Regions from separate parts of the Homo sapiens genome. Here all the other regions are linked to region 2. The links come from fine-mapping of genetic effects on gene expression. A gene starts in region 2. Each other region holds a variant in brackets. All regions are shown on one strand. Distances are between the middles of the regions. Region 1 overlaps LINC03036 (long intergenic non-protein coding RNA 3036). Region 2 holds the start of SFXN4 (sideroflexin 4). Region 3 has its middle 13 kb from the start of BAG3. Region 4 overlaps GRK5 (G protein-coupled receptor kinase 5).

Evidence for each region. PIP is the estimated chance that this variant, and not a neighbour inherited with it, causes the effect.
Region 1: its variant is fine-mapped to the expression of SFXN4 in ovary (GTEx, PIP 0.99).
Region 3: its variant is fine-mapped to the expression of SFXN4 in skeletal muscle (GTEx, PIP 0.96).
Region 4: its variant is fine-mapped to the expression of SFXN4 in spleen (GTEx, PIP above 0.99).

Annotation. Positions count from the first base shown.
Region 1 is chr10:118,975,627-118,978,324 of GRCh38, reverse strand. The region is part of intron 2 of LINC03036 (long intergenic non-protein coding RNA 3036); the gene reads left to right. Among named protein-coding and RNA genes, the nearest start is that of LINC03036, 53 kb to the left of the region's middle. The variant G/A (reference allele first, on the strand shown) is at 1,201.
Region 2 is chr10:119,164,328-119,166,968 of GRCh38, reverse strand. It overlaps SFXN4 (sideroflexin 4), which reads left to right and starts at 1,255. Exons shown (of 14, transcript NM_213649.2): 1 at 1,255-1,432. The coding sequence starts at 1,322. RefSeq lists silencers at 1,107-1,576, 1,618-1,804.
Region 3 is chr10:119,636,962-119,639,659 of GRCh38, reverse strand. It overlaps the pseudogene RPS8P4. Among named protein-coding and RNA genes, the nearest start is that of BAG3, 13 kb to the left of the region's middle. RefSeq lists a silencer at 2,533-2,698. The variant G/A (reference allele first, on the strand shown) is at 1,466.
Region 4 is chr10:119,292,882-119,295,579 of GRCh38, reverse strand. All of the region lies in intron 1 of GRK5 (G protein-coupled receptor kinase 5), which reads right to left. Among named protein-coding and RNA genes, the nearest start is that of GRK5-AS1, 45 kb to the left of the region's middle. The variant C/G (reference allele first, on the strand shown) is at 1,455.

The sequences.
Region 1 (2,698 bases), 190 kb after region 2:
GACACCCAGTTCCAGAAAGTCTGGTTTTCTTCCCAAAGCCAGAGACTGTGTGCTTCATCTAGGAGGTGGCTAAAATGGCTTAGGGTAGGGGCGGGTGGGTCAAGAGGCTTGCAGGAGAATGAAAGTGAGGGCAGGGTTGCCACTGCTCGCAGCTTCCTGCACAGCCCCACCTTCCATGAACGACGGCCAGGTGGGTGACCTGCTCCAGGTCCCTGGGAGGGCTGGCCGGGGTGGGGCGAGGTGACTGGCCCCTGGTCTTGCAGCCAGAGCCTAAGGCGTCTGGGGACGCTGATCACTTGCAGCCCAGAGAGAGCACAGCTGTCCTCTGCTTGGGGGTTTGCGACACAGGGCAACGGGAGTGGCTGAATATGCAACAGCAAAGGAGACTGCAGCCGTGGAGTCAGGGTCAGGGCACCGCAGTCCTCATTCTAACCAACGCCACTGACAAGCAGTGTGACCTTGGGCAAGTCACTCTACCTCTCTGAGCCTCAGTTTCCTTTCCTGCAAAATGTCAATAATAAAAATACAGTTCCTACCTGGAAGGTTGTTTCTGTGCATAAATGTTGTCAGCTGTCAAAATCATAAAATTCATGGTGAGATCTCATCTCTGCAAAAATAAAGTAAAAAAATTAGCCAGGTGTGGTGGCATGTGCCTGTAGTCCCAGCAACTTGGGAAGCGGAGGTGGGAGGATGGCTTGAGCCCAGGAGGTCGAGGCTGCAGTGTGCTGTGATTGCACCACTGCACTCCAGCCTGGATGACAGAGCAAGACTCTATCTCGAAAAATTAAAAAATAATAAAATGAATAGTAATCCATTGCTATCTGCATTGGTTTGCTCTTATGACCTCTCTGACTTCCTCCCTGCTTGGCTCAGCAATTCCATTCCAGCAGTGTTTCCTGCATGAGGAGTACCTGCTGTGAGAGCCACAGTCACCCTCAAGCCTGGGTGAGCCTGGGTCAGGGCTGAGCTGAGCACAGCCTCCACCTTGGGCTGGGAATTGAGCTCTTCCAGACAGGAGAACAAGGCCTCTGAGCATGGAGAGCCACCAGCATCACCTCACCTGGGTTTAGGGACTTTGCAGACCCCTTTTTGGGGGGCGGTCCTTGGACTCCTCTGCAGGTTACAAACTTCCCACACACTCACCTGGCCAGACTTTTCCATTGGCTGGCCCTTTGGTGTTTGCTTCTTCTTTTAGGACAC[G/A]GATGGTGCTGGGGGTTCATGAAGCACCATTGCAAGGCCAAAGGGAACCTCTCCTTTCTTCACGCCTTCCAGTCTGGCACTGCATGCAGACCGTGGTCAGTGGGGACTGACCCAGGGGCTCAGTCCAAAATGGTTTTATTTTTATTTTTAAATACAAATAAATGAGAAGCTCTGGCTGAAATGCTGTTTTTCTCTTCTTGTTCTTTCCCTTCTCTTTTCCCCATCCTTCCAGGCTGCTCCATCCCAGATCAAGTGAATCAGAATCTCTGGGGGATGGGACCAGGTCTGGTTGGTGTTTTTTGTTTGTTTGTTTTGTTTTGTTCTGTTTTTGTTTTTTAGGTATCCTGGGTAATTTTTGTTTTCTGGTTGTAAATATGAAGACTTTTTAAAAATTTTATTTTACTTTAAGTTCCGGGACACATGTGCAGGTTTGTTACATAGGTAAACATGTGCCATGGTGGTTTGCTGCACTTATCATCCCGTCACCTAGGTATTAAGCCCCGCATGCATCAGCCATTTGTCCTAATGCTTTCCCTCCCCTCACCTCACCCCCCAACAGGCCCAGGTGTGTGTTGTTCCCCTCCCTGTATCCATGTGTTCTCATTGTTCAGCTCCTACGTATGAGTGAGAACATGCAGTGTTTGGTTTTCTGTTCCTGTGTTAGTTTGTTGAGGATGATGGCTTCCAGCTTCATCCATGTCCCTGCAAAGGATGTGATCTCATTCCTTTTTATGGCTGTATAGTATTCCATGGTGTATATGTACCACATTTTCTTTATCCAGTCTATCATTGATGTATCCCTCGTAATTATTATGGGTAGCCCAGTGCTGAAAACCACTGCTTTGGGGAAACTGTTGTCATTAGGACCGGAAATCTCACAGAGGCCACAGTGAAGGGGAACAGTAGTTAGCAACAGTGATACCACTAGGACATGGCATGGCTCTCTTTCCTTTTTCCTACTCTCTTCTACATTGGCTCCTACCTCAAGCCCTAACCTCAGAGTCACAGAATAGCTGCAGCAGCTCTATCCCTCATATCTCCTCAGCTTTGAGGCCTGGAAAGAGGGGGAGGTTCTCTCCTAGGATGTCCATTGGATGACCCACTGCGTCTCATTGGTGCTTGCCTTTGCTGGCTCTGGTTGGCTTGCCACTGCTTGTTTCCATTTGACACATAAGCTTCCTCCAGCAGGTGGACTAGTATGAATTCAATATAATGGGGAGTGGTAATGGGGGATGGGTGAGGTGCTGTGAGAGTGCTGAGTGGGGTTACTAGCGGGAGGAAGGGTCAGTGACAGCTAAAGGGAAGCCCAGTGGAGGAGCTAGGATGTATAACAGCTGGGGGTGAGAACTGGAAAGACTCAGGAGCCACACAGATCCCGTGGCCATCCGCAGAGCCTGGGGAGGGAATACATGTACAAGTTAAAAATTACGTAGTGTCCCACAAGGGTTATAATGTAAAATCTGCAAGGCAATGTCCCCCACCCCCCAGTCCTGCTGCT
Region 2 (2,641 bases):
TCCTTTGTTAAGACGACATAGCAGTCCAAAGTGGGGAAGCAGGCCAGCGGGCTGGCTTTGTGACATCCTGGAGGGTAGAGACAACAGAATAGAACAGCACGCTACATACTGCACTGGTGCTTAGATGGATTTCTGCGGCATAAGGGTAGAAGTGGAGGGGGCACCTTACTCAACTCGGAGGGTCAGGGAAGGCTTCCTGGAAGAGGAGATAAACCCCTGGAGGTTAAGAAAAGTGAGCTAGGCAAACTGAGCAAATACAGAAGCAGAGTCATACAGGCCTGAAGGACGCCATGAGCCAATTTCCTGTTCCTGGAGGCGCAGGGCAAGGGAAGGAATTGGCCCGCTGGAGGTTAATGGCCAATACTGAGCACTTCTGAGGGCTCAGTGCTGTGTTAGGGATGTTTTATCTCCTTTGATCAGAAACAAAACCCTGAGATAGGTACAATTGTTATCCTCATTTTGCGGATGGGAAAATAGACTTCGAGATACTGACTTGGCGAGGGTCACACAACTAGATGATGTGCTGGGTCCCCCAGTCCTGGACTCCGGAGGCCCCCTGAACGACCTAGGCACACTTGTGGCTTCCGTGAATTTAAGTGCACACAGCCCCCGCCTGGCCCTGTGCTGGGGAAGGGCAGGTGGGAGGAGGAAGGGAAGGCAGGTTTTTCTTTACAAATGGTACCTATTTGGTAGTCAACAAAAGGAACTGGATTTGCCCCAACACTGGAAGAAAAAAAAAAACAACCTGTTGGGCTGAGGGATAGTGCACTGTGCCCAGGGCCCTATACTTGGTTTGATGCTCTGGTGTTACTCTCTTGAAATTCTCAGTAACATGAATAAGGGGCACCGCATTTGACATTTTCCCTGGGCTGAGACCATGATGCAGCCGGCCTGACTGCGCAACACCATGCACACTGGAATTCGTGGGCCATCGGAGGGATTTTCGAGGGTAATGACCAGGGGTAGGGCGCGGCAGAAGCGCAGGGTGAGGTTGCGGACGGCCTCACTCACAACCTTTCCGGGTCTTCGCATTAGGTACTGTGATGACGGGTTCCGATAGTGACCCCTTGGGGCCTGGAGACGGCCCGGCTCCCCAAAGGTGCGGAGCAGGGCAAGCAGGGTTGGGAGGACGTGGCCCGTGGGAGAGCTGCGCTCGCCGGAACAGTGGGCGCGCAAGGGCCCCGAGGCGCTGTGACACGGGACGTCGGGCGCGCGGGCCTGGGGCGGGAACTGCGGGTGCGCGCGGCCCGGGGCGGGGCTCGCCGCCCGGCTCCTCCTCCACGCGCGGCCTGGCGGCGGCGGCCACTCTAACCAGCGCAAAATGTCCCTGGAACAGGAGGAGGAAACGCAACCTGGGCGGCTCCTAGGACGCAGAGACGCCGTCCCCGCCTTCATTGAGCCCAACGTGCGCTTCTGGATCACCGAGCGCCAAGTACGGCCCGGGCCCGGCGCGACTAGGGGCAGGGAGGGGGCGGGCCGGGCCGCGTGGAGTCGGGCTGACCCGGGTGACCTTGGCCAGGCCACGTGGGCGCCCCCTGTCTCCGTTTCCTCCTCTCGGAGTTGTGCCGGGAACGCGCACCACCGGCCTTCACCCCTTAGGGCGCGGCAGGGGACGCAGGGGAAATCGAAGCTGCCAGATGCCCACGACCACAACGTCACCCTCCAGATTGCCCTCTCGGAGGGGCCCAGTCCGCGCAGGTGGCTGCTCCCTACTGCCTGAGCTGTGGCTGAGCAGCAGATTGGGGAGAAACAGGCTCTCGCACCTTGGTAAGCTCAGCCACTTTCGGTGAGACCCCCGAGGCTTTGGGAAGCCACCCTTGGGCAGGACATAAGCAGGACTTATCTCCCTGCAGCGTCTAGGGCAGCACCGTCCAATAGAAATATGATGTGAGCCTTACAGGTAATTAAACATTTTCTAGTAGCCACATTAAACAAGATAAAAACAGCTGAAATTTTTAACAATACAGTACATTTAGCCTAGCAGGTGCAAAATATTAACATTTCAACATGTAATCAGTAAAAAACATTGCTGAGATATTTTACTCGCTTTTTTGGTACAGAGTGTTCCAAATCCGGCGTCTGTTACCTTCACAGCACATCTGGGTTCAGCCGCATGTGGCGAATTGGAGAGCAGGGCTTTAGGGGGTTCTCTTTGAGGCCTCTCCTAAAGTGGGGTCCAGCCCTGTTTTTTTTTTAGGTGGGGAAATTGAGAAGGGGCGGTGAGCTCAGGTTGCTCCAGCAGAGCCAAGGCTTAAAGCCAGAACCACTACAAAGTTTAGAGTTTGCTGGAGCAAACCTCTTTTTCCCCAGTGTGACCCCAGCTGCACCATTGAGCCCTTAATGGGGCGTCCATCCTTTGTCACTGGAGTGAAGCCTTATAGCAAGCAGAGAGTGAGGCCACAGACTCTTGAGATATTCTAGGCCATTGCTTCGAGGTCGTATGTGAGATATGAACGTAAGACCATTTGAACCCCCAAAGTCTGGGATTTTAACCCTCAAGGGCAATTTGATACTGAGAGGTTAAGGGCACAGACTTCTGAATCATTTCCTGGCTGTGTTGCCTTGAGTACATTCAGGAGTCCCTCTAAGCCTCAGCTTCCTCACCTGGAGAACCTGGAGAGGTTGGGAGGATCCCAGGAGA
Region 3 (2,698 bases), 470 kb before region 2:
AGAGATTGAGACAGAGACAGACAGACAGGGTCTCACTCTGTTACCCAGGCTGGAGTGCATGGCATGATCTCGGCTCACTGCAACCTCCACCTCCTGGGTTCAAGTGATTCTCCTGCCTCAGCCTCCCAAGTAGCTGGGATTACAGGCGTGCACCACCATGCCTGGCTTATTTTTTTGTATTTTTAGTAGAGATGGGATTTCACCATTGGCCAGGCTGGTCTCAAACTCCTGACCTCAAATGATCCACCTGCCTCAGCCTCCCAAAGTGCTGGGACTACAGGCATGAGCCACCGTGCCTGGCCTTCAGTGTATTTTCTTGTGCACAGGTCATTTTGCAAGAAAGTACGAGTAGGTCTATCAATACCTGGAAGTGGAAGTGCTCCATCATCAGGCCAATGCGTTTTAAAATTTAAGTTATTTTGCCAAATTTGTCTCCAAGGAGGTCAGGGAAGGTCAGCCTCGCACCAGTAGCGTTCAGAGTGCACGTTCCCCATGACTTTTTTTTTTTTTTTTTTTTTTTTTGCCACAGAACAATAGACACCTTTATTCCATGGGCAAAGACAGAAAGGATGAGGATTTATTTGCCTTTCCGGGCCTTGATTTTCCTAAGATAGAACTCCATCTCCTTGCCCCCTGGCACATAGACATGGGCTTGGCCACACTGTCCCAGCCTTGAAGCGACGCATGCAAGAAGCTTGCCCTGCTGGAACTGCTCCCCCAGGAGACGGCTGATTTTGGCATTCTTTTCCCTTTCATCGTATTTCTTCTGAATTTTTTTAGATCGTTTTTTGTTTAAAGTCTTTTCTTCCTCAGGAGTCAGTTTGGCTCCCTTCTTGCAGCCCAGGGGCAGCGCATAGTGGGACTCATACCACTGGTGGTACGGTGTGCTGTCAGTGAGCACGAAGCAGTTCTCCACCAGGGTCTTGGTACGGACCAGCTTGCTATTGGGCGCATCGTAGACAACATCAGTGATCCTTGTTTTGCGAGTACAACACTCTGAACCCCAGGAGAAATTCCCCATGTCCCGCCTCAGGGCACCGTATTTATTGTTACCTCCCCGCACACGGACTGTGTGGATGTGGTGGGGGCCAATCTTGGTGTTGGCAGCCAGGTGCCCCAACTCATACTTCCGCTTCTTGTCGTAGGGCTTTCTCTTGCTGCCAGTCTTGCGGCGCTTGTGCCAGTTGTCCTGAGAGATGCCCATCACTCGGCGCTGGCTGGAAAGAGGCCCCATGATCTTACCGGACCGTGTTAGCTAATGTTCTGATCTTTGCCAATCTGATATATTCCCCTTATGCTTTTAATTTGAATTTCTATTATGATGAGTGTAATTGAGCATCTTTTCTTTTTTTTCTTTTTTTTTTTTTTGAGACAGAGTTTTACTCTTGTTGCCCAGGCTGGAGTACAGTGCGATCTCGGCTCACTGTAACCTCCGCCTTGTGGTTTCAAGCGATTCTCCTGCCTC[G/A]GCCTCCCAAGTAGCTGGGATTACAGGCACCCACCACCACTCCTGGCTCATTTTTGTATTTTTACCAGAGACGGGGTTTCACCATGTTGGCCAGACTGGTCTTGAACTCCTGACCTCGTGATCCGCCCACCTCGGCCTCCCAAAGTGCTGGGATTACAGGCGTGAGCCACTGCACTTCGCCCCTGTTGAGCATCTTTTCATGTGTTCAGAGACATTTGGAATTCTCTTCTGCGAACAGTCTGAACCTATCCTTTGCCTGTTTCTCCACTGGGACTAAGGGATAATGAAAATGATTTTTACAGATGCAAAAGGGGTTAAACAAGAGCACCAGGTCGATGTGGGACCCATAACAATGGGGACTGGCATTGAAAAATGGCCTGAGGCATTCTACCTCTGGTCCAGTTGCTTGAGATTTCTGACTGAGGCCCCCCCCTCCCACTCTCGCCTAAGCAGCAGCCAGCTCTGGAACCAAGGGAAAGCCTGGAAATGAAATTGTAGGTTTAGAAATGAAAATTTGAGCTTGGAATGCAAATTGACTGAGAAACCACCAGGCCCCTCCTCTGAGCCTGGTTTATCTCCAGCCTCTGAGGCTGATTTAAGCTTGGTCGGGGATAGAAGGAAGTGAGAGGTAGGAGCTCGCTGCATGACTTAATAGGCTGAGAGGAAGATGAAGATTGAAACAGGTACACATGTCATAAAATGATGGTCAGAGACCAGTGTCAGGAATTTCTTCCAAGGCCACAATATTCTTCTGCCTTGTTCTTTTGTCTTTTCTTCACTGGCTAGGGCTGTGCTAAGTTAAAACCCAAATGGACAGTCATTTCTATCTAAATCCGTTACTGTCTTAGAAGGTGTGGGGCAGTGTTTTCAGGATGGAGAAAGAATCAGGGTTGTGCTTTGGGGATCTCTGCCACCATGTGAATTGCACTCTGAGGTTTAAGTAGGTACCGGTACATGTCTTCTATTGTTTCCAGAAGGTGCACAAAGTTGCTTCCAGAGAGCCTGTTAAATCTCATTCTTCTATTCTTATATGCTTCGAGATTTCTTTTTTTTTTTTTTTTTCGAGAAGGAGTCTTGCTCTGTTGCCCAGGCTGGAGTGCAGTGGCATGATCTCAGCTCATTGCAACCTCCGCTTCCTGAGTTCAAGCAATTCTTCTGCCTCAGCCTCCCAAGTAGCTGGGAGTACAGGCATGCACCACCACGCCTGGCTAATTTTTGTATTTTTAGTAGAGA
Region 4 (2,698 bases), 130 kb before region 2:
TATCTACTCATTGATTGACAGGCATTTGGGATGGTTCCATGATTTTGCTGCTATAAATATGCGTGTGCAACTATCTTTTCCATATAATGACTTATTTTCCTCTGGGTAGATACCCAGGAGTGGGATTGCTGGATCAAATGGTAGTTCTACTTTTACTTCTTTAATGGACCTCCACATGGTTTTCCATAGTGGCTGTACTAGTTTACATTCCCACCAGCAATGCCTGATGGGTTTTCCACTTATTTATTCAGCTAATATCTATTGAGCGCCAACTGTGTCCTGACCAGTGTTGAGTCTAGGGCCCCACAAACAGGATATGTTCTCTGCCCTTAAGATGCCTGTGATCTGATGGAGGGACTGGTTGACTTTTTTTTTTTTTTTTTTTTTTTTGAGACTGAGTCTCGCTCTGTCGCCCAGGCTGGAGTGCGGTGGTGCGATCTCGGCTCACTGCAACCTCCGCCTCCCAGGTTCAAGCGATTCTCCTGCCTCAGCCTCCTGAGTAGCTGGGACTACAGGTGCATGCCACCACGCCCGGCTAATTTTTTGTATTTTTAGTAGAGACAGAGTTTCACCATGTTAGCCAGGATGGTCTCGATCTCCTGACCTCATGATCCACCCACCTCAGCCTCCCAAAGTGCTGGGATTACAGGCCTGAGCCACTGCACCCAGCCAGCCACCATGCCCTGCCCAGACTTTTTCTATAAAGAGGCTTTGTCTTTGCAGACCACATGGTCTCTGTCAAGACTACCCTGTTCTGCCATTGGAGAGCAAAACAGCCATAGGCAATATGTAAAAAATAGGCATGGCTCTGTTCCAAAAGAACTAAAGAACTTTATTTGTAAAAATAGAACTGGCCTAAGGGTCACAGTTTGCTGGCCCCTGTCCTAGAACCTCAGAAGTTCTAGAAATTATATGTCTCCCCCTGCCTCCCTCCTCCTTAGCCCTGCGAACCTGAGCAATGACCCTGGCCACACAGAGTCTAGACCCAAATCTCCTGACCACTGGCTCACACCTGATTCCTACTTATCTTGTGCCTGGGGTGAGTCTTGGCCCTTTCCTGAGAACAAGAGCATTTGGAGAGAAAAGCCCAGAGGTCCAGCTTGACAGGTGGCTGGCGGCAGGTTGGGTCAGGACAGTGCCTGCCTGGGAAATCTGCTTTTGGGATTCAACATTTCCCTGCAACCCAGCCCCTCACCCCAACTCCTAGGTCCTGGCAGAGGGCTGGGGGGACACGTCTAACCAACCGAGATGTGGTCCTCACCCGCAAGAGCACCTGCTGGGTTGGATCAGGCCTTGTGGACCCATTAAAAGTGGTTATAGTCTCACCTTACCAAGAAATTGAGACTAGGACAGGTTCTGAAATATGCTCGAGTGGCAGAGCAGAGATTTGAACTTGGGTCTGTGAAATGTTCTCATCACCACACATGCCTCTCACCCAGATCCAGGTACGCTTT[C/G]CTCCCTGCAGGAGGGGTCAGAGGCAAATACACATGCGTCTCCTCACACCATGAAAGTAAGTGGAGAAGCTGAGCCTCCCTCATTTCACAGCTCCTGGGTCTCTGTTTTTCCCCAACTCCACAAAGCAGAGGTGGGGGTGGAGGTTGAAAATGCTCAGCTCCCAGACCCCCGGGATTAGCAGGTGATTGTCAAGCATCTGAAAAGACACAGAGTGCTCTTGTCATTATTAGATCGTAATAGATTCATACTCACCCCCTCCATCTGAAGGCGTCTATTTCAGGTTTAACGTAACAATAGAGTATTGTTCCTACTCCAGACTCGGGTACCACCCCGAGGCGATGGCAGCACCCACCCAGCCCCACCCTGGCACTGACTGCTGCCTCGGGGCAGAGGCAGCACCACCCAGGCATCCAGGCCATCATCCACTCCCTCCTAGATTCCCAGCAAATCTCCTGGGCAGTGACGAGGAGGCCCAAGGTCTATCCGGAAGGAGGAATGTACAAAGAAGCCAATTTGCCTGATACTTGGTACCTGGCAATCCGCAGTCAACATAAACTATCCTCCCAATGCCCACGGCCAAAGGTCACCAGAGTGACAGACCCATGGCTGTGCACTGGGAGGTCAAAAGACAGACGAGGAACAACAATCACTTAATACACAGAGTGCTTGCTGTATACCCCATCTCTGCTCCTCAATTGTATTCAAGCTTTGCATTCAAGGTTTTACAACTATCCCATGGTAGAGCTTAGCATCTGTTAGCTAATGAAACAGACTGGGCGTCGCCAGAGAAAAGCACCCACTGGTCTCAAACTCCTGACCTCAAGTGATCCACCCACCTCAGCCTCCCAAAGTGCTGGAATCACAGGTGTGAGCCACGGCATCCAGCCACCTCAAGTCTCTTGTCTGTTAAATGGGAGATAAAAATATGTCCTCCACCTGTTTCACAAGAATGGGGTAAGATTCAAAGAGAGTAAGCCACTTCCTGGCTGCATAACCTTAAACAACAGCTTATACATAACTTCTTCAGGTCTTCGCTCTTTTATTTATAAGATGGGAAAATTCTTGTTCATACGGCTCCAGAATATGACAGGAGATGAAGCCACCAAATGCTGAGTGCAGTGCCTGGCCCAGAGCTTGAAGTTTCCCAGTATTCAATGATTAGAGGGTGCTTTGTAAAACATAAAGTCAACACGCAGTTGGCCTCCCATATCCACGGGCTCTGCATTTGTGGATTTAATCAACC